4 linked regions of the Homo sapiens genome follow. The protein of the gene in region 1 interacts with the protein of each later gene in a pairwise test. Each region holds a gene or a part of one and is shown in the gene's direction. Other genes may lie near its edges.

The links.
Region 2: the proteins of TRIM69 (region 1) and AIFM2 interact in binary tests that used the Homo sapiens proteins (3 or more experiments, as listed by UniProt).
Region 3: the proteins of TRIM69 (region 1) and NEK8 interact in binary tests that used the Homo sapiens proteins (3 or more experiments, as listed by UniProt).
Region 4: the proteins of TRIM69 (region 1) and STMN3 interact in binary tests that used the Homo sapiens proteins (3 or more experiments, as listed by UniProt).

Annotation. Positions count from the first base shown.
Region 1 is NC_000015.10:44,739,528-44,746,559, forward strand, and holds part of TRIM69 (E3 ubiquitin-protein ligase TRIM69), read left to right. Parts: intron 1-7,032.
Region 2 is NC_000010.11:70,129,794-70,137,062, reverse strand, and holds the start of AIFM2 (ferroptosis suppressor protein 1), read left to right. Parts: upstream 1-4,237; 5' UTR 4,238-4,329; intron 4,330-7,269. UniProt on the Homo sapiens protein: A NAD(P)H-dependent oxidoreductase that acts as a key inhibitor of ferroptosis.
Region 3 is NC_000017.11:28,724,267-28,731,800, forward strand, and holds the start of NEK8 (serine/threonine-protein kinase Nek8), read left to right. Parts: upstream 1-4,521; 5' UTR 4,522-4,547; coding exon 4,548-4,594; intron 4,595-7,534. Other genes in the region: TLCD1 (TLC domain-containing protein 1 isoform 1 precursor), read right to left, coding at 244-627, 1,038-1,120, 1,215-1,297, 1,638-1,831. UniProt on the Homo sapiens protein: Required for renal tubular integrity. May regulate local cytoskeletal structure in kidney tubule epithelial cells. May regulate ciliary biogenesis through targeting of proteins to the cilia.
Region 4 is NC_000020.11:63,639,200-63,643,444, reverse strand, and holds the end of STMN3 (stathmin-3), read left to right. Parts: intron 1-1,145; coding exon 1,146-1,337; intron 1,338-2,047; coding exon 2,048-2,107; 3' UTR 2,108-3,733; downstream 3,734-4,245. UniProt on the Homo sapiens protein: Exhibits microtubule-destabilizing activity, which is antagonized by STAT3.

The DNA of each region.
Region 1 (7,032 bases):
ATACTGTGCTTTTCCGACGGGCTTAAAGAACGGTGCACCAGGAGATTATATCCTGCACCTGGCTCGGAGGGCCCTACGCCCATGGAGTCTCGCTGATTGCTAGCACAGCAGTCTGAGATCAAACTGCAAGGCGGCAGCGAGGCTGTGGGAGGGGCGCCCACCATTGCCCAGGCTTGCTTAGGTAAACAAAGCAGCCGGGAAGCTCGAACTGGGTGGAGCCCACCACAGCTCAAGGAGGCCTGCCTGCCTCTGTAGGCTCCACCTCTGGGGGCAGGGCACAGACAAACAAAAAGACATCAGTAACCTCTGCAGACTTAAATGTCCCTGTCTGACAGCTTTGAAGAGAGCAGTGGTTCTCCCAGCACGCAGCTGGAGATCTGAGAATGGGCAGACTGCCTCCTCAAGTGGGTCCCTGACCCCTGACCCCCTAGCAGCCTAACTGGGAGGCACCCCCAAGTAGGGGCAGACTGACACCTCACATGGCCGGGTACTCCTCTGAGACAAAACTTCCAGAGGAATGATCGACAGCAGCATTCGCGGTTCACGAAAATCCACTGTTCTGCAGCCACCGCTGCTGATACCCAGGCAAACAGGGTCTGGAGTGGACCTCTAGCAAACTCCAATAGACCTGCAGCTGAGGGTCCTGTCTGTTAGAAGGAAAACTAACAAACAGAAAGGACATCCATACCAAAAACCCATCTGTACATCACCATCGTCAAAGACCAAAAGTAGATAAAACCGCAAAGATGGGGAAAAAACAGAGCAGGAAAACTGGAAACTCTAAAAAGCAGAGCGCCTCTCTTCCTCCAAAGGAACGCAGTTCCTCACCAGCAACAAAACAAAGCTGGATGGAGAATGACTTTGACAAGTTGAGAGAAGAAGGCTTCAGATGATCCAACTACTCCGAGCTACAGGAGGAAATTCAAACCAAAGGCAAAGAAGTTAAAAACTTTGAAAAGAATTTAGATGAATGTATAACTAGAATAACCAATACAGAGAAGTGCTTAAAGGAGCTGATGGAGCTTGCTGTATTCAGGAAACCCATCTCACATGCAGAGACACACATAGGCTCAAAATGAAAGGATGGAGGAAGATCTACCAAGCCAATGGAAAACAAAAAAAGGCAGGGGTTGCAATCCTAGTCTCTGATAAAACAGACTTTAAACCAACAAAGATCAAAAGAGACAAAGAAGGCCATTACATAATGGTAAAGGGATCAATTCAACAAGAAGAGCTAACTATCCTAAATATATATGCACCCAATACAGGAGCACCCAGATTCATAAAGCAAGTCCTGAGTGACCTACAAAGAGACTTAGACTCCCACACAATAATAATGGGAGATTTTAACACCCCACTGCCAACATTAGGCAGATCAACGAGACAGAAAGTTAACAAGGATACCCAGGAATTGAACTCAGCTCTGCACCAAGCGGACCTAATAGACATCTACAGAACTCTCCACCCTAAATCAACAGAATATACATTTTTTTCAGCACCACACCACACCTATTCCAAAATTGACCACATAGTTGGAAGTAAAGCTCTCCTCAGCAAATGTAAAAGAACAGAAATTATAACAAACTGTCTCTCAGACCACAGTGCAATCAAACTAGAACTCAGGATTAAGAAACTCACTCAAAACCGCTCAACTACATGGAAACTGAACAACCTGCTCCTGAATGACTACTGGGTACCTAACAAAATGAAGGCAGAAATAAAGATGTTCTTTGAAACCAATGAGAACAAAGACACAACATACCAGAATCTCTGGGACACATTCAAAGCAGTGTGTAGAGGGAAATTTATAGCACTAAATGCCCACAAGAGAAAGCAGGAAAGATCCGAAATTGACACCCTAACATCACAATTAAAAGAACTAGAAAAGCAAGAGCAAACACATTCAAAAGCTAGCAGAAGGCAAGAAATAACTAAAATCAGAGCAGAACTGAAGGAAAAAGAGACACAATAAACCCTTCAAAAAGTTAATGAATCCAGGAGCTGGTTTTTTGAAAGGATCAACAAAATTGATAGACTGCTAGCAAGACTAATAAAGAAGAAAAGAGAGAAGAATCAAATAGAAGCAATAAAGAATGATAAAGGGGATATCACCACTGATCCCACAGAAATACAAACTACCATCAGAGAATACTACAAACACCTCTATGCAAATAAACTAGAAAATCTAGAAGAAATGGATAAATTCTTCGACACATACACCCTCCCAAGACTAAACCAGGAAGAAGTTGAATCTCTGAATAGACCAATAACAGGCTCCGAAATTGTGGCAATAATCAATAGCTTACCAACCAAAAAGAGTCCAGGACCAGATGGATTCACAGCCGAATTCTACCAGAGGTACAAGGAGGAACTGGTACCATTCCTTCTGAAGCTATTCCAATCAACAGAAAAAGAGGGAATCCTCCCTAACTCATTTTATGAGGCCAGCATTATCCTTATACCAAAGCCGGGCAGAGACACAACCAAAAGAGAGAATTTTAGACCAATATCCTTGATGAACATTGATGCAAAAATCCTCAATAAAATACTGGCAAACTGAATCCAGCAGCACATCAAAAAGCTTATCCACCATGATCAAGTGGGCTTCATCCCTGGGATGCAAGGCTGGTTCAATATACGCAAATCAATAAATGTAATCCAGCATATAAACAGAACCAAAGACAAAAACCACATGATTATCTCAATAGATGCAGAAAAGGCCTTTGACAAAATTCAACAACGCTTCATGCTAAAAACTCTCAATAAATTAGGTATTGATGGGATGTATCTCAAAATAATAAGAGCTATCTATGACAAACCCACAGCCAATATCATACTGAATGGGCAAAAACTGGAAGCATTCCCTTTGAAAACTGGCACAAGACAGGGATGCCCTCTCTCACCACTCCTATTCAACATAGTGTTGAAAGTTCTGGCTAGGGCAATTAGGCAGGAGAAGGAAATAAAGGGTATTCAATTAGGAAAAGAGGAAGTCAAATTGTCCCTGTTTGCAGATGACATGATTGTATATCTAGAAAACCCCATTGTCTCAGCCTAAAATCTCCTTAAGCTGATAAGCAACTTCAGCAAAGTCTCAGGACACAAAATCAATGTACAAAAATCACAAGCATTCTTATACACCAATAACAAACAGAGAGCCAAATCATGAGTGAACTCCCATTCACAATTGCTTCAAAGAGAATAAAATACCTAGGAATCCAACTTACAAGGGACGTGAATGACCTCTTCAAGGAGAACTACAAACCACTGCTCAATGAAATAAAAGAGGACACAAACAAATGGAAGAACATTCCACGCTCATGGATAGGAAGAATCAGTATCGTGAAAATGGCCATACTGCCCAAGGTAATTTATAGATTCAATGCCATCCCCATCAAGCTACCAATGACTTTCTTCACAGAATTGGAAAAAACTACTTTAAAGTTCATATGGAACCAAAAAAGAGCCCGCATCGCCAAGTCAATCCTAAGCCAAAAGAACAAAGCTAGAGGCATCATGCTACCTGACTTCAAACTATACTACAAGGCTACAGTAACCAAAACAGCATGGTACTGGTACCAAAACAGAGATAGAGATCAATGGAACAGAACAGAGCCCTCAGAAATAATGCCGCATATCTACAACTATCTAACCTTTGGAAACCTGAGAAAAACAAGCAATGGGGAAAGGATTCCCTATTTCATAAATGGTGCTGGGAAAACTGGCTAGCCATATGTAGAAAGCTGGAACTGGATCCCTTCCCTACACCTTATACAAAAATTAATTCAAGACTGATTAAAGACTTAAACATTAGACCTAAAACCATAAAAACCCTAGAAGAAAACCTAGGCATTACCATTCAGGACATAGGCATGGGCAAGGACTTCATGTCTAAAACACCAAAAGCAAGGGCAACAAAAGCCAAAATTGACAAATGCGATCTAATTAAACTAAAGAGCTTCTGCACAGCAAAAGAAACTACCATCAGAGTGAACAGGCAATCTACAAAATGGGAGAAAATTTTCGCAACCTACTCATCTGACAAAGGGCTAATATCCAGAATCTACAATGAACTCAAACAAATTTACAAGAAAAAAACAACCCCATCAAAAAGTGGGCAAAGGACATGAACAGACACTTCTCAGAAGACATTTATGCAGCCAAAATCACATGAAAAAATTCTCACCATCACTGGCCATCAGAGAAATGCAAATCAAAACCACAATGAGATACCATCTCACACCAGTTAGAATGGCATCATTGAAAAGTCAGGAAACAACAGGTGCTACAGAGGATGTGGATAAATAGGAACACTTTTACACTGTTGGTGGGACTGTAAACTAGTTCAACCATTGTGGAAGTCAGTGTGGTGATTCCTCAGGGATCTAGAACTAGAAATACCATTTGACCCAGCAATCCCATTACAGGGTATATACCCAAAGGACTATAAATCATGCTGCTATAAAGACACATGCACATGTATGTTTATTGTGGCACTATTCACAATAACAAAGACTTGGAACCAACCCAAATGTCCAACAATGATAGACTGGATTACGAAAATGTGGCACATATACACCATGGAATACTATGCAGCCATAAAAAATGATGAGTTCATGTCCTTTTTAGGGACATGGATGAAATTGGAAATCATCATTCTCAGTAAACTATTGCAAGGACAAAAAACCAAACACTGCATGTTCTCACTCATAGGTGGGAATTGAACACTGAGAACACATGGACACAGGAAGGGGAACATCACACTCTGGGGACTGTTGTGGGGTGGGGGGAGGGGGGAGGGATAGCATTAGGAGATATACCTAATGCTAAATGATGAGTTAATGGGTGCAGCACACCAACATGGCACATGTATACATATGTAACTAACCTGCACATTGTGCACATGTACCCTAAAACTTAAAGTATAATAATAATAAAAAAAATGGTGGAGTAGAGAAGTCCCAAAGTCCATCCCTCCACAAAAACTGGCAAAAATTTTGAAGATCGAGTTTTTTAAAACTTGAAACTAATCAAAAGCTTACAGCAACCAGGGAAATATTTAATAATAATTAAATAAAACCTTGAATCTCTGTAAAATAACTTTTTAACACTTTAACTTACTCAGGTTTTCCTCATTTCCCATCTTGGTGGTGGTTTTAAAGACAGCTGACATTCCAACTACAGGTACATAGTACAAGTGGGAGCAGCATGGACCTTATTCCCAAAGAACTGTGGCTTTGACCTGTCTGGTGCTTCCATGAAGTATTACATAAAAGGCTTGCCATTAGTTTGTTTAACTCAGAACTTTTTCACAGATGAGATGGCTACCCTGGAGGTATAGTTTGGAAACATTTAAAAGCAAATGTTTTTATTGCTGCCACCTGGGGAAAGGCATAATAGTTGGGGCAAACAATAGAGTAACCAAAAAGCTGAGAAAGAAAGGCTGGGGAAAGAGTTATTTTGGGGAATACCCTTTGAAAAGTACCCACATATTCCTGGTAATCTAGAAGGCCAACTGCATGCCCAGGACTGAGTGCATACTAAAAAAAAAAAAAAAACCTGAGAAAGACCCCAAGTTTTCTTCTCGGAGTGACTTTTAGGATCTGTGTAAGCAGGAACTGAGGACTAAGGAAGTTGTAAACTGTGTGTTGAAGGCATGCTCAACATATACGAAGCCCATTTACAAAGACTGGGAGGTTTTTGTTGTTGTTGTTGTTTGATTTGGGTTGATTCTAGGCATTTAAGGAAATCTCTGTTGAACTATTAGATGACTACTAAGTTCATGGGACAGAATTCAGTAGCTACATGTGACGAAGAATACAGACTTTACAAAATTTGTTTAGAAAAGTCACTAACTAAACAAAACAACTACAACAAGAAGTAACAAAAAACCCCAGAGAAGGTGGAAGATTCTGATTTCCAGAGATTTCACATTATACTTGTCAAAGTATCGGATATTCAACAAGTATAAATAAATAAGAACATATGGCCCATGGACAGGAGAAAAGGAAATTAATAGAAACTATTCCTGAGGAAGCTCAGACATTGGACTCACTAGACAAAGATTTTATATCAATTATTTTAAATATTCTCAAATAGCTAAAGGAAACAATTTGCAAATAAGGAAACCATGAGACTGATGTCTCACCAAATAGTGAATACCAGCAAAGATGTAGAAGTTATAAAAAGGAACCAAAGAGAAATTATGGTGTTGAAAAGCATAATAACTGAAATGAGAAATTCGCAAGAAGTGTTCAAATCAGATTTGAGCAGGCAAAAGAAAGAATTCATGAAACTGAAAATAGGTCAATTGAGATTATGCTGAAGATCAGGGAAAAAAAAGAATGAATAAAAATGAGCAGAGCCTCAGAAACCTGTGGGACTGTTATGCATAGTTGGAGTCCCAGAAGAGAGGAGAGAAGGGGACAGAAAGAATGCTTAAGGAAATAATGGTTTAAAACTTTTGAAATTTGACAAAAGGCATAAAGCTATACATCAAAGAAGCTCAACAAACTCTATGTAAGTTAACAGAGAGCCACACCAAGTTATAATTAAACTATTAAAAGCCAAAAATAATCTTAAAAGTAGCAAGAGTGAAGTGACTTATGTACAAGAGAGCCTCAATAAGTTAACAGCTAATTTTTCATCAGAAATCATGGAAGCCAGAGAGCAATGGGATGACATCTTCAAAGTAATTGAATAATCCACAAAGAATTTTGTATCTGGCCAAACTATCTTTCCAATATGAAGAAGAATTTAAGACATTCTCAGACAGACAAAAACTGAGCTTATCTCTAGTAGATCTTACCTACAAAAAATGACAAAGGGACTTCTTCAAGCTGAAATGAAGGGACATTAGACAATAACTTGAACCCAGACAAAGACATAAAAAAAGCACTCATCAAAGAACTACCTATTTTTGGTTTGTAACTCTTCTTTTTTTTCTAAAGTTTTAAAAGATAATAGCATAAACCAATAATTGTATATAAAAAAAGAAATCAATCTTAGTTTAAAACTCAAGTGTGCAAAGAA
Region 2 (7,269 bases), on another chromosome or scaffold:
AAGGCACCCACAGGCTACTCTGGGGAGACTGATGTGTCAGCCCATTAGTGCAATAAGCAGGGAAGCTCTGTCCAGGGAAGAGTATGTCTGGGGGCCCAGAAGGGGTGGGTTAGGTAAGGCTTCAAGGTGATTCAGGCTCTGAACCATGAAAAGAGAGTTCAGAGTTTACCAAGTGGACTGGAAACAGAGTGTTCCAGGCTGAGAGTGGCAGGAGCTGGGACAAGGAAGTGTGGCACAGCTTCCTTGTGGAGAGAAAATTGGAAAAGTGCAAGACAGGCCCAGGGACCAGTTACAGTGGCTTGGTGAGAGAGAAGATGGCTGAGGCAGGACTGGTGGTGGTGAGATCAAGTGACAACACAGGAGGTAGAACTGATGAGCTCCCTAATTTGAGACCAGGTGCTGTATCTCACGCATGTAATCCCAGCACTTTGGGAGGCTTGAACCCAGGAGTTTGAGACCAGCCTAGGCAACATAGCAAGACCCTGTTTCTTCAAACACACACACACACACACACACACACACACACACACACACAAATTAGCCAGGTATGGTGGTGCACACCTGTGGTCCCAGCTACTTGGGAGGCTGAGGCAGGAGGATGGCTTGAGCATGGGAGTTCGAGGCTGCAGTGAGCTATGATCATGCCACTGCACTCCAGCCTGGGTGACAGAGGGAGACCCTGTTTCTAAAAAAGAAAAACAAAGATCTAATTTGGGACCATGAGTGGCACTCACTTGCCATGTCCTGTTAGCCTGGTCCCTGGATGCCTGTGTGAAGGGAGACAGCCTCATAAACCAGTCCACTGGCCTGGAACTCATGCCCTAGCAAGAAGTGCACTTCTGTTGTATTTGAGCCATTACATTTGGAATCTATTGGTCATTGCAGCAGAACTTACCTTCATTAATATAGCCTCTCCCTAGCTGGGAACACTATACCAAATCATGTGTTGGGGGAGAGAGGAAGAAACGAGGATATTCCTCTCTTCTTTGAAGCTTACAAATTTCGTTGGAACTACGTATGGAAAAGGAGAACATTTACCAGGCTCTTCAGATCTAAGAGTTGCCTGTTCTTCGAGTGGGCATACTGCCTCTGTTTCTCTGGGCTCCTGAGATGACCCAGTACCTTGGAGCTCCTCCAGCCCTGGGAGCCAGCAGAAAAGCCACCTGTTGTCTGTAAGGAAGTACCCACAGGCCTGGCTGAGCTCATTACAGCAGAGAGCCAGCAACGCTTCCTCCTCTTAGATTCCGTCATGTTAGACAATCTGCCTGCTCTCCCCACTAACCGTCAAAGTTCCATGGAATGAACTTGCCACTTTTTCAGGATCCTAACCACCGCACTTTCCTGCTACCTCTGGCACTTGGAATTTCAGAGACAAAACCCCTTTTTTAGGCAGCGAGCCCTGATTTTCAGTTCCAAAGCTATGGGCACTGCTGAGTGGGACCAGAGGAGTGGTGTGCAGTGAGCTACCTGGAGGGGTTGCATGAGACCATGTCCCCTCTCCTGGATGGAGGTGTCTTCTGGTTGCCAAGAAAGTATTGAGTGATAATCAGAAAAATTCCTTGATTTTCATGGTTTGTTGCTTTGTAGCAGGTCTTAAGGAAAAAAAAAAAGTTTTTCATGGTTTGGGACAGGTCCTTAGAGATGGGCCACACCAGCCCTGGCACACCTGAGCCCAGTGTTGGGCCACCTCACACCTCTCTCGCCTCTCTTCCAGCTTTATCTTTGTCCTGCTCTTTCTGGAGTCCTTTCCTTGCATCCTGCCAGCTGGCATCCCCTTCATCCTTGCACGCCTACCTTCTACACAAAGCCTTCCATGACCATCCCAAGCCTCAGGGCTGATTCCGTGCAGTGGGCAGGCTGTAGCCTCTCTGTTCACCTCTCTGTGTCACATCTTACTGGGTACATGCCCAGTAAATTCCCCACAACTGAGATTCTGCTTTGCCTGAGCAGTGCCCTCTGGCTCCTTAGGGATGATGCTTGCTGAGGGGTTTCCTGGCTTTAAGGTCATGGTTCAGGCTGGGCTCAGTGGCTCACACCTGTAATCCCAGCACTTTGGGAGGCCGAGGTGGGCAGATCACTTGAGGCCAGGAGTTTGAGACTAGCCTGGCCAACATGGTGAAACCCCGTTTCTACTATAGCCGGGTGTGGTGGCAGGTGCCTGTAATTCCAGCTGCTTGGGAGGCTGAGGCATGAGAATCGCTTGAGCCTGGAAGGTGGAGGCTTCAGTGAGCCGAGAGCATGCCACTGCACTCCAGCCTAAGCGACAGAGCCAGATTCGTCCCCCTACCCCCCAAAAAGGGGTCATGGTTCAGACCTCCATTGTAGGCCCACCCCCTTGCTTTACTAGCTGAGGGACCTTGCCTAAATTCTTTAGCCTCTAGGAGCCTAAATTTCCTTATCTGCAAAATGGAGATTAATAAAACTTACCTTGCAGGACCTTTGTGAAAAAAACAAAAACAAACAAAAAAACTTGAGAAGTCATTCAAAGCACTTAGTTCGTGATCAATAAATATTAGCTTATTGTTTTTCTAAGACGATGAGTAGGATTTTTCATCAAAAATAAATCATTCTGGTTGCCTTGGGCAAAATAATCTGCAATATAAAATATCTATAATAAATGGCTGCTGTGTATTCATTGCTACTGTGTGCCAGGCACCATGTTAAAACACTTTATAAAAATGATCTCATTGAGGCCTTTCCACAACTCTTTTTTTCTTTTTTTAGAGATGGAGTTTCGCTCTTGTTGCCCAGGCTGGAGTGCAATGGCATGACCTCCGCTCACTGCAACCTCTGCCTTCCTGGTTCAAGTGAATCTCCTGCCTCAGCCTCCTGAGTAGTTGGGACTACAGGCATGTGCCACCATGCCAGGCTAATTTTTTGTAGAGACAGTGTTTTACCATGTTTGCCAGGCTGGTCTCGAACTCCTGACCTCAGGTGATCCACCCACCTCGGCCTCCCAAAGTGCTCGGATTACAGACGTGAGCCACCGTGCCTGGCCCTTATCCACAACTCTTAAAGTAGGTGCTAATATTTGCAGTAAGTAGATGGAGATGGCTTATCTTTCGCTGAGTTAGCTTGGTCTGATTTGAGCTGGCAATACACTGCCTTCCAGGTCATTGTCCTGCCTGTGGGTCTTTGCACATCCAGACCACACTTCCTTCCTCTTTACCTAAATCTACCTCTTTCTCATCCTTGGAGAGAAGTATTTGCACCCTTCCTTTGCCCTCAGTCTTTCTTTTTTATTTTTTCATTTCATTTCATTTATTATTATTATTATTATTATTTTTTTTTTGAGACAGAATCTCACAGTCACCTAGGCTGGAGTGCAGTGGAATGATCATGGTTCACTGTAGCCTCAAACTCCTGGGCTCAAGCAATCCTCCCACCTCAGCTTCCCGAGAAGCTGGGACTACAGGTGTGCACCAACAAGCCCGGCTAATTTTTGTAGGTCTCGCTATGTTGCCCAGGCTGGTCTCCAACTCCTGGGCTCAAACGATCCTCCCGCCTTGGCCTCCCTAAGTGCTGGGACTGTAGGCATGAGCCACCGTGCCTGGCCATGCCCAATCTTTCTTACTGCAGTTGGTGATACATGGTTTTTGTTTTCTCTATACATGTATTTTTTGGTGGTGTGTTTAATATCTGTCTTTTCCCAGACTGTCGCCTCCGTGAAAGCAGGAACCTTGTCAGTTTTCTCTCCAAGTTATCCCTCCAACGCCTAGCACAGTGCCTGGCAAATGTAGGAGCTCAACAGGGTTTGCGGAATTATTATGTGTATGTCTGAAGGAAGGATGTTGGCAGTGCGCCCAACGTGTGAGGGGAACCCCACTCTCCAAGGTTCCAGTGGCTTTAAAGGTGTCCTCGAGAAAATCAGAGGAACAGGGGGATGCTTGTTTTCCTTCCTTCCTTCTCTCTCTCTCTCTCTCTCTCTCTCTCTCTCTCTCTCTCTCTCTCTCTCTCTCTCTCTTTTTTGCTTTAAAGTATGCTGAAAGGACACTTTAAACCAAGTCTGAATGGCTCGGCAGGACTGGGGCGCGGGTGCTGGCAGGAGCCGGAGAGGCGACATCTGGCCATGGGAGCATTTGTTTCAAAGTTCAAGGCCGTTCGCTCAGGGTCAAGGTTAGTCCGGCGGGCCGTTCGGAGACCAGCCCCAGCGTGCCAGGACCGTTTCCGGGGCCTGGCCGGGGCGTTGCCGCGGGGTCGGGGACCAGCACGAGTGCTGAGTCACGCCCCGCCCGGGAGCGCCTCGGGTCAGTAACTCGGGAAGACGACCAAGCGGGAGCGGGAGCGGGAGCGGGAGCCGGAGCGAGAGCGCGCGGGCGCGGCCGACAGGTGAGATCGCGCCGCCAGGCGGGCTCTCGAGACCCCGGGCGCCCCGGGCGGGACCGGGACCCGGAAGAGGGGCGAGCGGATTAGAGGCCTGGCTCACGCCGCGTCTGGCGTGGGGAGGTCGGTGCGCGCAGTTGTGGCGCTGCGAGGAGAGGGATACTCGACTCAGGCCCGCCCCTCTCTGTCTCCCCCAAAAAACGCAACAGGGAGATGTGCTCCTGGCCGAGGGCAAAGAAAACTCCACCCTCCTGGTTTGGCCCCTAAATCCCTGCTAAGTTTTCCTAAGGAAGATGGGCTTAGGCCGGGAAGGGCGAACCGGGGAAGAGGGAACACGGGGCGGGTGTAACCCGGATCTTGCGAGGACCGTCCGAGGGTCCGCTGGGTAGAAGCGGCCGGTCCGGACAGAAGCAGGTGTGAGAGGAAAGGGAGAAACCTCAGTCTCTAAGAGGAAAGAAACTGGAGTCAACCCAGTGCCCATAGGCTCGGGGGAGCTGGGGGGTGCAGCACTAGGAAGTCTGCTTCTCCCTTCCCGAAGCCCTGGGTGCTGCAGGGACAAAGACCAGCGGTGAGTAAACTAACTCTGATGGGACGCGTGCAGTCCACCTGGAACTGAATTAGTGGCCTATATTGGGGCTCTCCTTCCAACACCACCTGATCAACACACCCTACCTTTCCCTACAAGGAGAGTCTTTTTGACCCTGGAATTTAAGGTGAGGATGGGGAGTGGTGAGGTCTCTTGGGGGCTGATGATCCTGTAGGAGGACAGGCATAGGGCAGAGAGTCAGATATAGTTTGGGATGGGACTTGCAGGTTTCTGGACTGTGCACCTGTGTTCAAAAGCCTGTATCAGGTTCCAGTGTGCGTGCATGCACCTGCCAGAGAGCCCCGGGATCTCAGATCACACCTGCCCTCACCCCAGCACCTAGAGAGGAGTTCTCCAAGGAGCACAGTGTGTCACCAAGAAGAGGGCACTGAGCCCCAGCCAGGGTGGGCTGGGCAGGCTTAGCACTACCTAGCCCAGAAGTGATGGGCTGGGCAGGCCGGTGGACTCCAGGGCCAGCCTGACTTTTGTCTGGTGGCCAAATGAAGCCAGCGTCCAGGTACAGGTGGTGGGCAGACCATGGGGACCACAAAACTGGCTCTGAGGAGGATGGACAAATTGCTTGGCCTAGGTTTTCTGTGCGGGAGTGAATATGACATCCAGATGAACCTGTCTGCCCCAGAGCTGCCCTCCCCTGGGGATAAAAGGAGGCTGCCTCCCTTAGACTTTGAGTCCCTTTTCAGAAACTGGTCTTTTGGGGGTTCTGTTCTTCAAGTAGTCCCTGAGGGGCTGGCCATGGAGTGTCCCAGGAAGGGAGGCCGCCCAACCGTCTCCATCCTGCTGTGTCCCGCAGGTGGAGGAAACCTCCATGGTGCTGTGAGTCGTGCTGTAGTGGCCTTCTTATCCGGGACGGCCACTCTGGGAATGTGGCTCTCCAGAGGCTGATGTTGAAACCTACCCTTTGTGTGAGCCATGACGACTCAAAAAGCATCGTGTTTTATTTGTAATATTTGTGAAGCAATACTGGAGCAACTCTGGGATGACATTCTTGCTTTGATCAGAGCCCACACGGTTCCTGCTGTGTGTCTTCTGAGGCACAACCTCTGAACAGCTTTGGCATAAATGTAACTTCCTGGTTTTTCAGTAGTCCTATGGGCTGCTTATTGTGGAATAATACCCTTGAGATCAGGGTGGATGCTCTTGGCAGAGAAAACAGGATTGACTGAGCAAATTTTTGTGTAAATCAGATTGTGTGTGTGTGTGTCTGTGTGTATGTGTGTTGTGGCAGGGAGCAAAGGTAAAGTTACTGAGGGGTTCCTGGACAATCAGGGTTTGTTCCGCTCTCTTAGGCCTTCTTTTAAGCTAACATTCTTGAACCTAGACAGACATAGTTAAGATTCTCTGTGATTCCCACTGGGGCTTTGGTGTTCAGTTCAAAATCAGATGGTGGATTTAGCAGTTCCTCAAAAAGTTAAACTTCAAGTTACCATATGACCCAGCAATTCCATACCTAAATATATACTAAAGAGGACTGAAGACTGGTTCACACAAAAACCTGTACACAAATGTTCATAGTGGCGTTATTCACATAGTCAAAAGGTGGAAACAACCCAAGTGCCCGTCAGCTGATGAGTGGATAAACAAAATGTGGTCTATTCATACACCAGTAATGGACTGTTTTTCAGCCAGGAAAAGGAATGAAGCACTGATAACATGCTACAACTCGGATGAACCTTGAAAACATGATGATCAGTGGAAGACGTCGCAAACAAAAAGCCACATAGTGTATAATTCCATCTACATGAATTGTCTAGAACAGACAAATCTATAGAGACAGAAAGAACATTAGTAGCTACCCAGGGCTAGGGTAGGTGGGGTACAGGATTTATTTTGGGGGTGATGGAAGTGTTCTGGAATTAGATAGTTGTGATGGTTGCACAACCTGGTGAATACACTAAAACCCACTGAACTTACATCTTTTTTTGAAATTTAAATTAAAAAAAATTTTTTTTTGAGACAGAGTCTTGCTCTGGCGCCCAGGCTAGAGTGCAGTGGCATGATCATGCCTCACTGCAACCTCGACCTCCTAGGCTCAAGCGATCCTCCCACCTCAGCCTCCTGATATCAGGGACCACAGGCATGTGCCACCATGCCTGGCTAATTTTTGTATTTTTTGTAGAGATGGGGTTTCACCATATTGCCCAGGCTGGTCTGGAACTCCGGAGCTCAAGCAATCTGCCTGCATTGGCCTCCCAAAGTGTTGGGATTAGAGGTGTGAGTCAGCCTACATCTCATTTTTTTTTTTTAAAAGATGGGGTCTCATCTAGGCTGGAGTGCAGTGGTGCAATCATAGCTCACTGTGAACTTACATCTTAAGTGGTAAATTGTATATGTGAATTCTA
Region 3 (7,534 bases), on another chromosome or scaffold:
ATTTTGTCCTCACACACCCATCTACTATGTCCAACCGGTCTGTCTGCTTCCCTCACCCCTTGCCCAATAAAGGACAAGGACTTCAGAGGAGTACTTTCATTAGTGTTTTCAATAGTGTGGGCGCAGGCTCAGAAGGTGGAGAGGCTGGCCTCAGAGGACACCCAGGCTTGGGGCTAAGTCCCAGTGTCCATATGAAGCTGTTTCTGGCCTTGTCCGTTTTTGTTGTCCCAGGCTCTGTGCCCCTCACTCAGTCAAGAACTTGTCTTTGTGTTGCTTCTTGGGGACATGCTCAGGGCAGAAGTCAGAGCGGAGGAGGCGGGAAAAGTAGATTATGATCATCACGTCCAGCATGAGCAGGATACCCAGCAGGAAGGTGCCCAGGGTCCTCTGGTTCACATAACGCAAGAAGAAATGGGTGAGGTAGGCCTGAGGGGCCAGGCGGAAGAGAAAGTACATGACCAGGTTCACATACTTGTTAACCCGGTAGAGGAGATGATCCTGGGCATTACTGATTTTCATCATCATGCGAATGGTGAGGAAGATGTTGCTGACTTCCACCAGTAGTGTTAAGACACCCCCACCGACAAAGCTGCTCCAAAAGATGCCGGAGAAGAAGGCACCCATGGCCTAGAGGGAAGAAAGAATAGGAGTTAGGGAACCCAGATGCAGACGCTTTCCTGGAAGTTTGGGGGGTGTGGCTATCAGATTGAGGGCTGGAAAATCCCAAATTTCCCCCTGGAATAATAGTTTATAGTGGGTAAGATGCTTTGTTTTGTTAGTTCAACATTACTAGATTTTGATTGCTGCTCACAGCTGGCTGTGGGTGATGTTCAGTCTAAAGAGGCAGTGAAACCATGGGTTGCTGGCCTCAGTGAACAAGTACAGACTGCCAACCTCCAGCATCCTAGCATAAGAAGTAGCACACAGGTCGGGGGTGGGTGGTAAGAAAACACGGCCTTCTCCCAGATTCAGAAAGACGGAGCTGAGACTAGATTACTGACACCAGGCCTATACCACATAGTCTGCTTCTCTCTTACCATGACGTGATGGACAAGGTATTCCCAAGAGGCTCGCGTCTGTCCGCTAGCCACGATGTCCACCGTATCGTGGATGAAATACCCTAGTGGAGGGATGGGGCAAGAGATCATGAACTGAACAAGCAGCTTCCTTCTCCCTGTCCCCAATTTGCCTCCCGCTTCCTGGGCAAGACCTACCCGCAGAGAAGCAAACGAGCAAATAGCCAGAAAGTGACCACGCCGTCTCAATCTCCACTAACATGTCAGGAGTCTGCCATACACTGGAAAGGAGGGAAGAGGAGGCTCTGCATTTCGGCACCCTCAAGGACCATCAACTTCTCGGTTACCCTTCGCAGCCCCGGGGGATCCTGGGCTCGCGCTAGTGGCTGACTGGGAAGCTAAGAGTGGCTGGGCAAAACCCAAGAGCCTCCAGTTTCCCAGGGGCGATCCCCCTCCCCTGGGGCCACTGCGGCTTTTGGTTGGATAGGATACCAAACGGGATCAGGTGAGACTGCGTGGCCTCAGCCCGCCAGTGAGCGATGGGGGTAGTAACACAAGAGCCGGCCCCGGCTCCCCGCTCAGGATCCCCTGGCCACCTCATTTCCACAGTCGCTCACTCACCACAGCAGTGCCCAGATCCCCGACACAATGGAGTGAGCGAAGGAGACGAGCAGGTTGTGCCAGCGCCAGGTGCGCAGGGGGTCGGCGCGCACGTGCACGGGTAGGGGCAGGCGACAGAGCGCGCGCCGGAGCGCCCGGAAGGTCAGCGTGGCGCCCAGGAGCAGCGGCAGGGCGGGGTGCAGCAGTCGGGGCATGCTGGCCCTCCCTGCCGTCCGCCCTCGAGGCCGCCTCCTAGGTCTGTTCTGGGAACCGGGATCCCTCTCGGGCCAGTCCAGGCCGGCCGCCTCTCCCGCCGGCCGCCAGCCCCACACAGTTGGCGAAGCCCTCTAGGCCCCTTGGCTCCTCCTCGCCCTCCCTGCGAGGCCTCTGCCCCCGCCCCCAGCCGCCCGCGCCCCCGCCCCGCCCGCCTGCCCCCGCCCCGTCCGCCTGCCCCCGCCCCTCAGGCGCTGCTGCCGCGCGAGCCGGGTGTCCCCGTGGCCTCTCGGCCACCGGCCGGCTCCCGCGGACTTCGGGTAACTAGGAGCTGTGCTGGGGGCGTCGTCGCCGAGACACCCCTCGCTGGCGCCTCCCGACTGCCGACGGAGTCCCCGCTGCCCTCGCTCGCCTGGCCTCATTAACCCGCGTCCCCACTTTTCCCCGGGCCACCGGCTACCCCGCCCTGGGCGGGTACCGCGAGAGCTCTCTCCGCCCTCTACTTTCTGCGCAGAGCTGGACGGGACCCGACACGCCCACGCCCCCTAAGTCCTGGTCCTGGGGTGGGCTCCGGAGCCCCGCGTCCGACAGTGGTCTCCGTGCAGACCCAGTGCCCCTACCGCACCACTCGCAGTCTTCTGGCCGGAGTCCCGTGTTTACCTGTCCCTCCCGCGCCCGCGAGGTGGGCACTTGGGAACTGCTGAGTAACCCATCGCCACCTCTTCCCGCCGGCTCTTAAACTCCTGGGGCCGGGCGGCTGTCACAGTCCTCCCTCAGACAGTCCCGGCCCTCGGCCCGGCTCCCCGGAGGCTGGGCAAGCAAGACCTCCGATTTGCCGGGACAGCTGGAGTGACCCGCGCTCTCCAAGCCGGTAGCTTGCAGCAGTTGCGGCTCCTAGCCACTAGGTGTCAGCCTGCCCTCACTGTGGCGCGGGCTCCCCCTCCCGCCTCCGAGCGAGGCAGCTGCTTTCGGGGAGAGTTTAGGTATAAACTCTGGGCGAAAGGAGGAGCAGCTGAGAGCCAGCGAGGGAAGTTAAGCGGAGATGAGAGCGGGGAGGGAGAAGAGGGTAGTAATAGAGGAGGGGCGGGAAGAAGCGGGGGAGGGGAAAGGTGCTGCGGGCGGGAGGAAGAAGCCGAGAAAACCTGAGGCGCAAGGACCCAGGGACCAAGCCGTTTGAGTGTTTTCCTCCCCTATGGCTCCAAGGTTACACATTAACCCCTGTGGGACTCTTAAGTCAACCAAAGCCCAGTCGGTTTCTAGGTGAGAACACGGGTGTCCTGGGTGAGCGGCTTTCCCGCCCCTCCCCTTGGCTCACAGAGCTGCTCTGTCCGCCGGCCGACACCGGCCTGAGCCAGCGCCCTTCCAGCAGTCATTCCACGTGGGTGGGTTTGGATACCCTTGCGAGAGCCAGGACAGGGGCAGAAGATAAAACGCCCCTTTCCTCACACCCCTTGCCCACTCTGATACAGGGACGCTAACCTTCAGCTAGTGACCATCCTCCTCCTGAATACTGATGTTTTCTTTCTTTCTTTTTTTTTTTTTGAGATGGAGGCTCACTCTATCGCCCAGGCTGGAGTGCAATGGCACGATCTCGGCTCACTGCAACCTCCGCCTCCCAGATTCAAGCGATTCTCCTGCCTCAGCCTCCCGAGTAGCTGGGATTACAAGCGCGCGCCACCGTGCCCAACTAATTTTTGTATTTTTAGTAGAGACGAGGTTTTACCATGTTGGCCAGGTTGGTCTCAAACTCCTGACCTCAGGTGATCCGCCCGCCTCGGCCTCCCCAAAGTGCTGGAATTACAGGCGTGAGCCACCGCGCCTGGCCGAATACTGAGTTTTTCTAGAGCTCCCGCAGAGCAGGAGCCCGGGAGAACCTGGAATTAACCTCACTTCCGGTAAAGAGCCTAGCTGGTCACACTAACCAGCCCCCTGCCTCTAGGCTTTTGCCTTGAGCTCATTTCGGCGAAACCGCGGTCTTTCCTTCTCCCCTTGATGCTTTCAGGTACTGACCCACTACCGCCCCCATCTTCCCCCATGGGAAGATGAGCACTGAGGGCAGATTACCCTCCTGCAGCGCGTGTGTGAAAGGGGAGTTGAGAGTGCTGACGAGCGCGGCGCTCACTAGTCGGGACGGCCCGAGACCGTGTCATGTCCTCTTCAGGTGAATCAACTTGCACGACTTGGGATTTCCCCCGTCCCTCCCCAGGCAAACACGAAACCAACCCTGCTGCCTTCTCCCAGGAGCGCTGGTCTCGGTCGTTTTGGGTGTGTTTATCGTTTGCGTGCCAAGGAGAACCCGCTTTCTCCTGAAATAGCGTCACTCGTGGGCAAGAAGGGGGTCAATCTTCTCTTCCCACCCCTTCCCGGCCTGTGGGGTTTAACTCTCGGGAACGCGACATCCTTTTAGTCTAGCAAGCTTTACAAGGGCTGGGTATATGTGTGGGAGGGGCGGGTACCGTGCCCGCCATTGCGGGCGCGCCCTATTTTCTTGCCCTATTCTTGGACACTGCGTGGGGCAGGGTCGTGAGGGGAAAAGTGACGGCGTGTCGCAGCGGGAGGTGTGTGGTGCAGGCCCACAAATACGGACGCGTGGCGGAACCCACACCTAGGGCGCTGGCTCCGCCCCGCAAGCCGCTCGCCGTGAAGGGGCGGGGCCCAGAGTGGGTGGGTCCGCGCACGCGCCGCGTGGGGGACGGAAGTGAAACTCTAAGAAATGAGATGGAGAAGTACGAGCGGATCCGAGTGGTGGGGAGAGGTGCCTTCGGGTGAGCCAGGGCTCTGGGGGAGGAAACTGCTAGGGGATAGGGAAAATAAGCCCCAATTCCGCCCGCGAAGTCGCCGCCCGCCTAATCCCGCCCCAAGGCGTGAGCGCCACTCTGGGAAGCCCCGCCCAAGCTTCCGGTCCCAGTCCCCCGGGGAGACTCCGCCTCTACGGAGGCCACGCCCCTGACAGGCCCATTGCTCCGCCCACTGAGTTATGTTAGCTTCTTTATTCATTCGTTCAACAAATACTGAGTGCCAGCTATGTATGTCAGGCTTTGGCCGCTGGGTATATAGTTAGAACCGGAACGGGCGTGGTCTTTTCCCTCTTGGAACTTACTGACTGTGGGAAAGTTATACAATAAACAAAACATTATGAAGTAAGAAGTTATAGCAGTTATGAAGTGTTATTAGCAGGTTGTGAGGATAGAGTACATTACCAGTGAGAATACTTATATGAGATGGTCAAGGAAGAATTCTCTGAGAAGGGAGATTGCTTGCTTGCTTGATTGATTTTTAAGACAGAGTCTCCCTCTGTCACCCCGGCTGGAGTTCAGTGGCACGATCTTGGCACACTGCAACCACCACCTCCTGGGTTCAAGCAATCGTTGTGCCTCAGCCTCCCGAGTAGCTAGGATTACAGGCGTGCGCCACCATGCCCGGCTAAATTTTTTGGATTTTTTTTTTTTTTTTTTTTTTTTGAGGCAGTCTCACTCTGTCGCAGTGGCGCGATCTCGAGTGCAGTGGCACTATCTCAGCTCACTGCAACCTCTGCCTCCCTGGTTCAAGCGCTTCTCCTGCCTCAGCCTCCCGAGTAGCTGGGACTACAGGCACGCGCCACCATGCCCAGCTAATATTTTTTGTGTTTTTAGTACAGATGGGGTTTCGCCATGTTGGCCAGGCTGGTCTCAAATTCCTGACCTCAGGTGATCCGCCCGCGCCGGCCTCCCTAAGTGCTGGAATTACAGGCGTGAGCCACCGCGACAGGCCAGAAGTGAGATTTAAGGCCAAGACTTGAGGAATGAGGACCAGTAGTCTGCAGGTGAAGGGAGAACTTTTCAGGCAAAGGAAATAGCGTATGTGAAATGTCTCACATGGGAAAACAGAGCATTCAAGAAACCGAGAAAGACTAGTAATAGTTGGAATGTAGTGGGCAAGGTAGAGAATGGTATAAAATGTAATTGTCGAGGGCGGGGACTAGATTATGGCCTGATAACCTGAGATAAAAGGTTCATTTGCCACAAACGGTTTTGTTTTGTTTTTGTTTTTGTTTTTGAGACGGAGTCTTGCACTGTCGCTCAGGCTGGAGTGTAGTGGCAATCTCAGTTCACTGCAATCTCCGCCTCCCGGGTTCACGCAATTCTCCTGCCTCAGCATCCTGAGTAGCTGGGACTACAGGCACACGCCACAACAACCGGCTAATTTTTTTTTTTTTTTTTTTTTTTTTTTTGTGAGACAGAGTCTCCTCTGTTGCCCAGGCTGGAGTGCAATGGCACCATCTTGGCTTACTGCAAGCCCCGCCTCCCGGGTTCAAGCAATTCTCCTGCCTCAGCCTTACAGGCGTGTGCCACCATGCCTGGCTAATTTTTTGTATTTTTAGTAGAGACAGGGTTTCACCATGTTGGCCAGCCTGGTCTCGAACTCCTGACCTCAGGCGATCCACCTGCTTCTGCCTCCCAAAGTGTTGGGATTACAGGCGTGAGCCACCACTCCCAGCCACCAGGAAGGGTTTTAAAGAGGAAGAGTGATCCTGAGACTTGGCAGAGTTTTCTGAAAAGGGGCAGGGTGCAGTGGCTCACGCCTATAATCCTAGCACTTTGGGAGGCCGAGATGGGCAATTGCTTGAGCTTAGGAGTTAGAGACCAGCCTGGGCAACACAATGAGTCCCCCTGTCTACAAAAAAATAAAAAAATTAGCCAGGTATGGTGGCATTGGCATGTGCCTGTAGTCCCAACTACTCAGGAGGCTGAGGTGGGAGGATCACTTGAGCATGGGAGGTGGAGGCTGTAGTAAGCTGAGATGAGACCCCTGCACTTCAACTTGGTTGACAGAGTGAGAACCTATCTAAAAAAAGAAATAATACAAGAAAAAAAGAAAGAAAGGAAAGAAAGAAGGGGCCGGGCACGGTGGCTCAGGCCTGTAATTCTAGCACTTTGGGAGGCCGAGGTGGTTGGATCACCTGAGGTCAAGAGTTCGAGACCAGCCTGGCCAACACAGTGAAACCCCATCTCTACTAAAAATACAAAATTTAGCTGGGTGTTGTGACGGCTACTTGGGAGGCTGAGTCAGGAGAATCGCTTGAACCTGGAAGGCAGAGGTTGCAGTGAGCTGAGACTGTGCCATTGCACTACAGCCTAGGCAACAAGAGTGAAACTCTGTCTCAAAAAAAAATAAAAACAAAAAGGCCGGGCGTGGGGGTCATGCCTGTAATCCCAGCACTTTGGGAGGCCGAGGCGGGCAGGTCACGAGGTCAAGAGATCGAGACCATCCCGGCCAACATGGTAAAACCCCGTCTCTACTAAAAATAAAAAAATTAGCTGGGCGTGGGTGGCACGCGCCTGTAGTCCCAGCTACTCGGGAGGCTGAGGGAGGAGAATTGCTTGAACCTGGGAGGCGGAGGATGTAGTGAGCCGAGATCGCGCCGCTCCACTCCCGCCTGGCAACAGAGTGAGACTCCTTCTCAAAAATAAAAAAAATAGAAAAATAAAAAATCTTATCAGACCATTCCTCTATATTTTGTCTTTCTTTCTTTCTTTTTTTTTTTCTGAGACAGAGTCTCGCTCTGTCACCCAGACTAGAGTGCAGTGGCACCATCTCGGCTCATTGCAAGCTCCGCCTCCCAGGTTCACGCCATTCTTCTGCCTCAGCCTCCCTAGCAGCTGGAACTACAGGCGCCCGCCACCACTCCCGGCTAATTTTTTTGTATTTTTTAGTAGAGACGGGGT
Region 4 (4,245 bases), on another chromosome or scaffold:
CCAGGTGTGGTGGTGCACACCTGTAATCCCACCTACTAGGGAGTCTGAGGCAGGGGAATTGCTTGAACCCAAGAAGTGGAGGATGCAGTGAGCCGAGACTGCGCCACTGCACTCCTCAGCCCGGGCGACAGGGTGAGACTCCATTTCAAAAAACAAACAAGAACAAAAAAAGAAAGGGATGGAGAGGAGGAAGGGTTCCGAGGCGGCCACCTGGAAGGAGCAGGAGCCTCTGGTGAGGGTGGGAGGCACCCTTGTCAGGGCCAGCAGGATGCTAGGGGGTGGTCCCCAGATGGGCCCTGGGGACGTCGGGTGGGGCATCCCTCTCCCAGACAGGGAAGCTGGAGGAAGGGCCTCATGTGTGAAGACCCTGAGGCTTGCTGGAGGGCGGAGGGGCCCTGGGAGAGGTGGGTGTGGGCTCCAGGTCCCCTCCCTGCAGCCTCCCCTCCCACCAGCCCCTCTGAGACTGAAACAGAGATAAAAATGTCCTTTTGGGGGTGCCACCCTGGAGGCCAACGCATTGGGCAGGGGAAGCGGCTCCGTTCCCTTCCCGGTGAGGCCAGAGACCAGGGTTCACAGGGCTGACTAGTAGGGACTGGCATGTGGGTGCGGGTCCTGCTGCCCCGCTCTCCTCCCAGGGGTCACCAGCCGGCCCCTCCCCCAGCATCCCTGGGGACCCTCCGCTCCTGGGCACCTAATTGGGAGCTGGGAACCCGGTGTGTAACAAGCAGCTACTCTGCTCAGTGGGCGGATGTCCGAGGAAGAGACAAAGCTCAGAGACCGCCCACAAGTTTAGGGTTTCTTGCTGCTGGTCCTTGGAGGGGCAGACGCGCAGGGCAGGGTGTGCAGTGGCGGCAGGGTATGGCGGGGGCCCTGGGCGCAGCCAGGACCGCGGGACCCGCGCGCGAGGCAGGGACGGGGGCGGGGGCGGCGGATCGCGACCCCCTGGCCCTGCCCCGACCACAGGCCGGATGGCAGGCGAGGGTTCCCAGGGCAGCGCCCGGGGGTCCCGGCGCCCACCGAGGCCTGGGCAGGTGGAGGCGCCAGGTGAGGCGAGCGGGCGCTGGGCGGGAGGCGGAGAGCAGGGAGGAGTCCGGCCGGGCAGGGCCCGGGGTTGCCGCTCACGCGCGCCCGCCGGCCCCGCACAGACGCAGGAGGCGCAGGTGCTGAAGCAGCTGGCGGAGCGGCGCGAGCACGAGCGCGAGGTGCTGCACAAGGCGCTGGAGGAGAATAACAACTTCAGCCGCCAGGCGGAGGAGAAGCTCAACTACAAGATGGAGCTCAGCAAGGAGATCCGCGAGGCACACCTGGCCGCACTGCGCGAGCGGCTGCGCGAGAAGGTGCGGGGGCGGGGCCGGGGCGGAGCTCGGAGCGGGCAGGGGCCGGGGCGGGGCCGGGGCGAAGCTCGGAGCGGGCAGGGGCCGGGGCGGGGGCAGGGCTAGCAGCAGTCAGGGGGCGGGGCACTGGGCGGGGGCGGGGCCAGGGCGGAGCTCGGAGCGGGCAGGGGCCGGGGCGGGGCCGGGGCGGAGCTCGGAGCGGGCAGGGGCCGGGGCGGGGGCAGGGCTAGCAGCAGGCAGGGGGCGGGGCACTGGGCGGGGGCGGGGCTAGGGCGGAGCTCGGAGGGGCGCAGAGCGGGGCCGGGGACTCCGAGGCGCTGAGCTGGGGTGGGGGTCGGGGGCTCCTCCCGTGTTTACTGGGCGTCCCCAGCAGCGCACGAGGCAGGTCCAGAGTCTGGTCCTGGCGGGACAGTAACTAGCCGCAGTAATAGATGGCTAAATTCATTATATTGAAAGTGCCCTGAAGGAAGCTCGGCTCCGGTACGAGCTAGAAGCGGGGCCCAGCCAGCTCCCAGGAAACCCGTCCTTGGTCCCTGGCCTTGCTCTGCGCCTCCCCGGTGCTCCCGCCCCCTCAACTCAGTCAGGGTCCTGCCGAAGGCCAGCCCGGATGAGGCCGGGCGGGTGCCAGGGCGCCACGGCCTGCGCGCCTGGGGGTTCCCGGAGTCGCCCCAAGCCACCCCCGCCCTCAGGCCCTCCCGCCCCCTGTCCTGCAGGAGCTGCACGCGGCCGAGGTGCGCAGGAACAAGGAGCAGCGAGAAGAGATGTCGGGCTAAGGGCCCGGGACGGGCGGCGCCCATCCTGCGACAGAACACGTTCGGGTTTTGGTTTTGTTTCGTTCACCTCTGTCTAGATGCAACTTTTGTTCCTCCTCCCCCACCCCCGCCCCCAGCTTCATGCTTCTCTTCCGCACTCAGCCGCCCTGCCCTGTCCTCGTGGTGAGTCGCTGACCACGGCTTCCCCTGCAGGAGCCGCCGGGCGTGAGACGCGGTCCCTCGGTGCAGACACCAGGCCGGGCGCGGCTGGGTCCCCCGGGGGCCCTGTGAGAGAGGTGGCGGTGACCGTGGTAAACCCAGGGCGGTGGCGTGGGATCACGGGTCCTTACGCTGGGCTGTCTGGTCAGCACGTGCAGGTCAGGGCAGGTCCTCTGAGCCGGCGCCCCTGGCCAGCAGGCGAGGCTACAGTACCTGCTGTCTTTCCAGGGGGAAGGGGCTCCCCATGAGGGAGGGGCGACGGGGGAGGGGGGTGATGGTGCCTGGGAGCCTGCGTGTGCAGCCGGTGCTTGTTGAACTGGCAGGCGGGTGGGTGGGGGCTGCAGCTTTCCTTAATGTGGTTGCACAGGGGTCCTCTGAGACCACCTGGCGTGAGGTGGACACCCTGGGCCTTCCTGGAAGCCTGCAGTTGGGGGCCTGCCCTGAGTCTGCTGGGGAGTGGGCATTCTCTGCCAGGGACCCATGAGCAGGCTGCATGGTCTAGAGGTTGTGGGCAGCATGGACAGTCCCCCACTCAGAAGTGCAAGAGTTCCAAAGAGCCTCTGGCCCAGGCCCCTCCCCACCAGGGCTTTGCAGATGTCCTTGAAAGACCCACCCTAGAGCCCTTTGGAGTGCTGGCCCCTCCTGTGCCCTCTGCCCTGGTGGAAGCGGCAGCCACAAGTCCTCCTCAGGGAGCCCCAAGGGGGATTTTGTGGGACCGCTGCCCACAGATCCAGGTGTTGGAAGGGCAGCGGGTAAGGTTCCCAAGCCAGCCCCAACACCCTTCCCACTTGGCACCCAGAGGGGGCTGTGGGTGGAGGCCTGACTCCAGGCCTCTCCTGCCCACACCCTCTGGGCTGAGTTCCTTCTTTCCCTTGGACGCCCAGTGCTGGCCTTGGAGGACGGTCAGCTGGAGGATGGCGGTGGGGGAGGCTGTCTTTGTACCACTGCAGCATCCCCCACTTCTCCACGGAAGCCCCATCCCAAAGCTGCTGCCTGGCCCCTTGCTGTAAAGTGTGAAGGGGGCGGCTGAGTTCTCTTAGGACCCAGAGCCAGGGCCCTCAACTTCCATCCTGCGGGAGGCCTTGGCCGGGCACTGCCAGTGTCTTCCAGAGTCACACCCAGGGACCACGGGAGGATCCTGACCCCTGCAGGGCTCAGGGGTCAGCAGGGACCCACTGCCCCATCTCCCTCTCCCCACCAAGACAGCCCCAGAAGGAGCAGCCAGCTGGGATGGGAACCCAAGGCTGTCCACATCTGGCTTTTGTGGGACTCAGAAAGGGAAGCAGAACTGAGGGCTGGGATATTCCTCATGGTGGCAGCGCTCATAGCGAAAGCCTACTGTAATATGCACCCATCTCATCCACGTAGTAAAGTGAACTTAAAAATTCAATCAAATGAACAATTAAATAAACACCTGTGTGTTTAAGACATGGTTGAACTGTCTGTGTGTGTCCTGCACCTGTGGGGTCGGGGGCAGCTGCGGGCTCCCTGTCTGGGAGTGAAGATCTGCTCTGTGTGTATCTCCAGACTGAAGCTGGTTATAAATCTTATTTTATCATCATGATTATGAATTGTTCTATTGACAACAGTGATTTTAAGATATGAGCATGTAAACTACACACAAGCCCACTTTCCTCTCTGGAATCCAAGGGGTGAGGTGTCAGGGTGGGGGGTGGCAGGGCCCGCTGCTGTGGGTGGGGCTGGCGGGGGCTCCCCTGCCCTCCCTCAGGGCGGAGCCCTCCTCAGGGGCTTCCTGTTGTTCAGGACTCTGTGGCCCGCCGCTCAGGAGGAAAGGGCAGGGCCTACATATGTATGCATCTGAGGCTGGAGCCTCTAGGCTGTGGGACTTCCTGACATGGGGGCAGGTGCTACGAGACCCCTGGGGCTGCACCCCACTGTTCTGTGGACTCACCCCACTCACCCCATTCACCCCTGGGCAG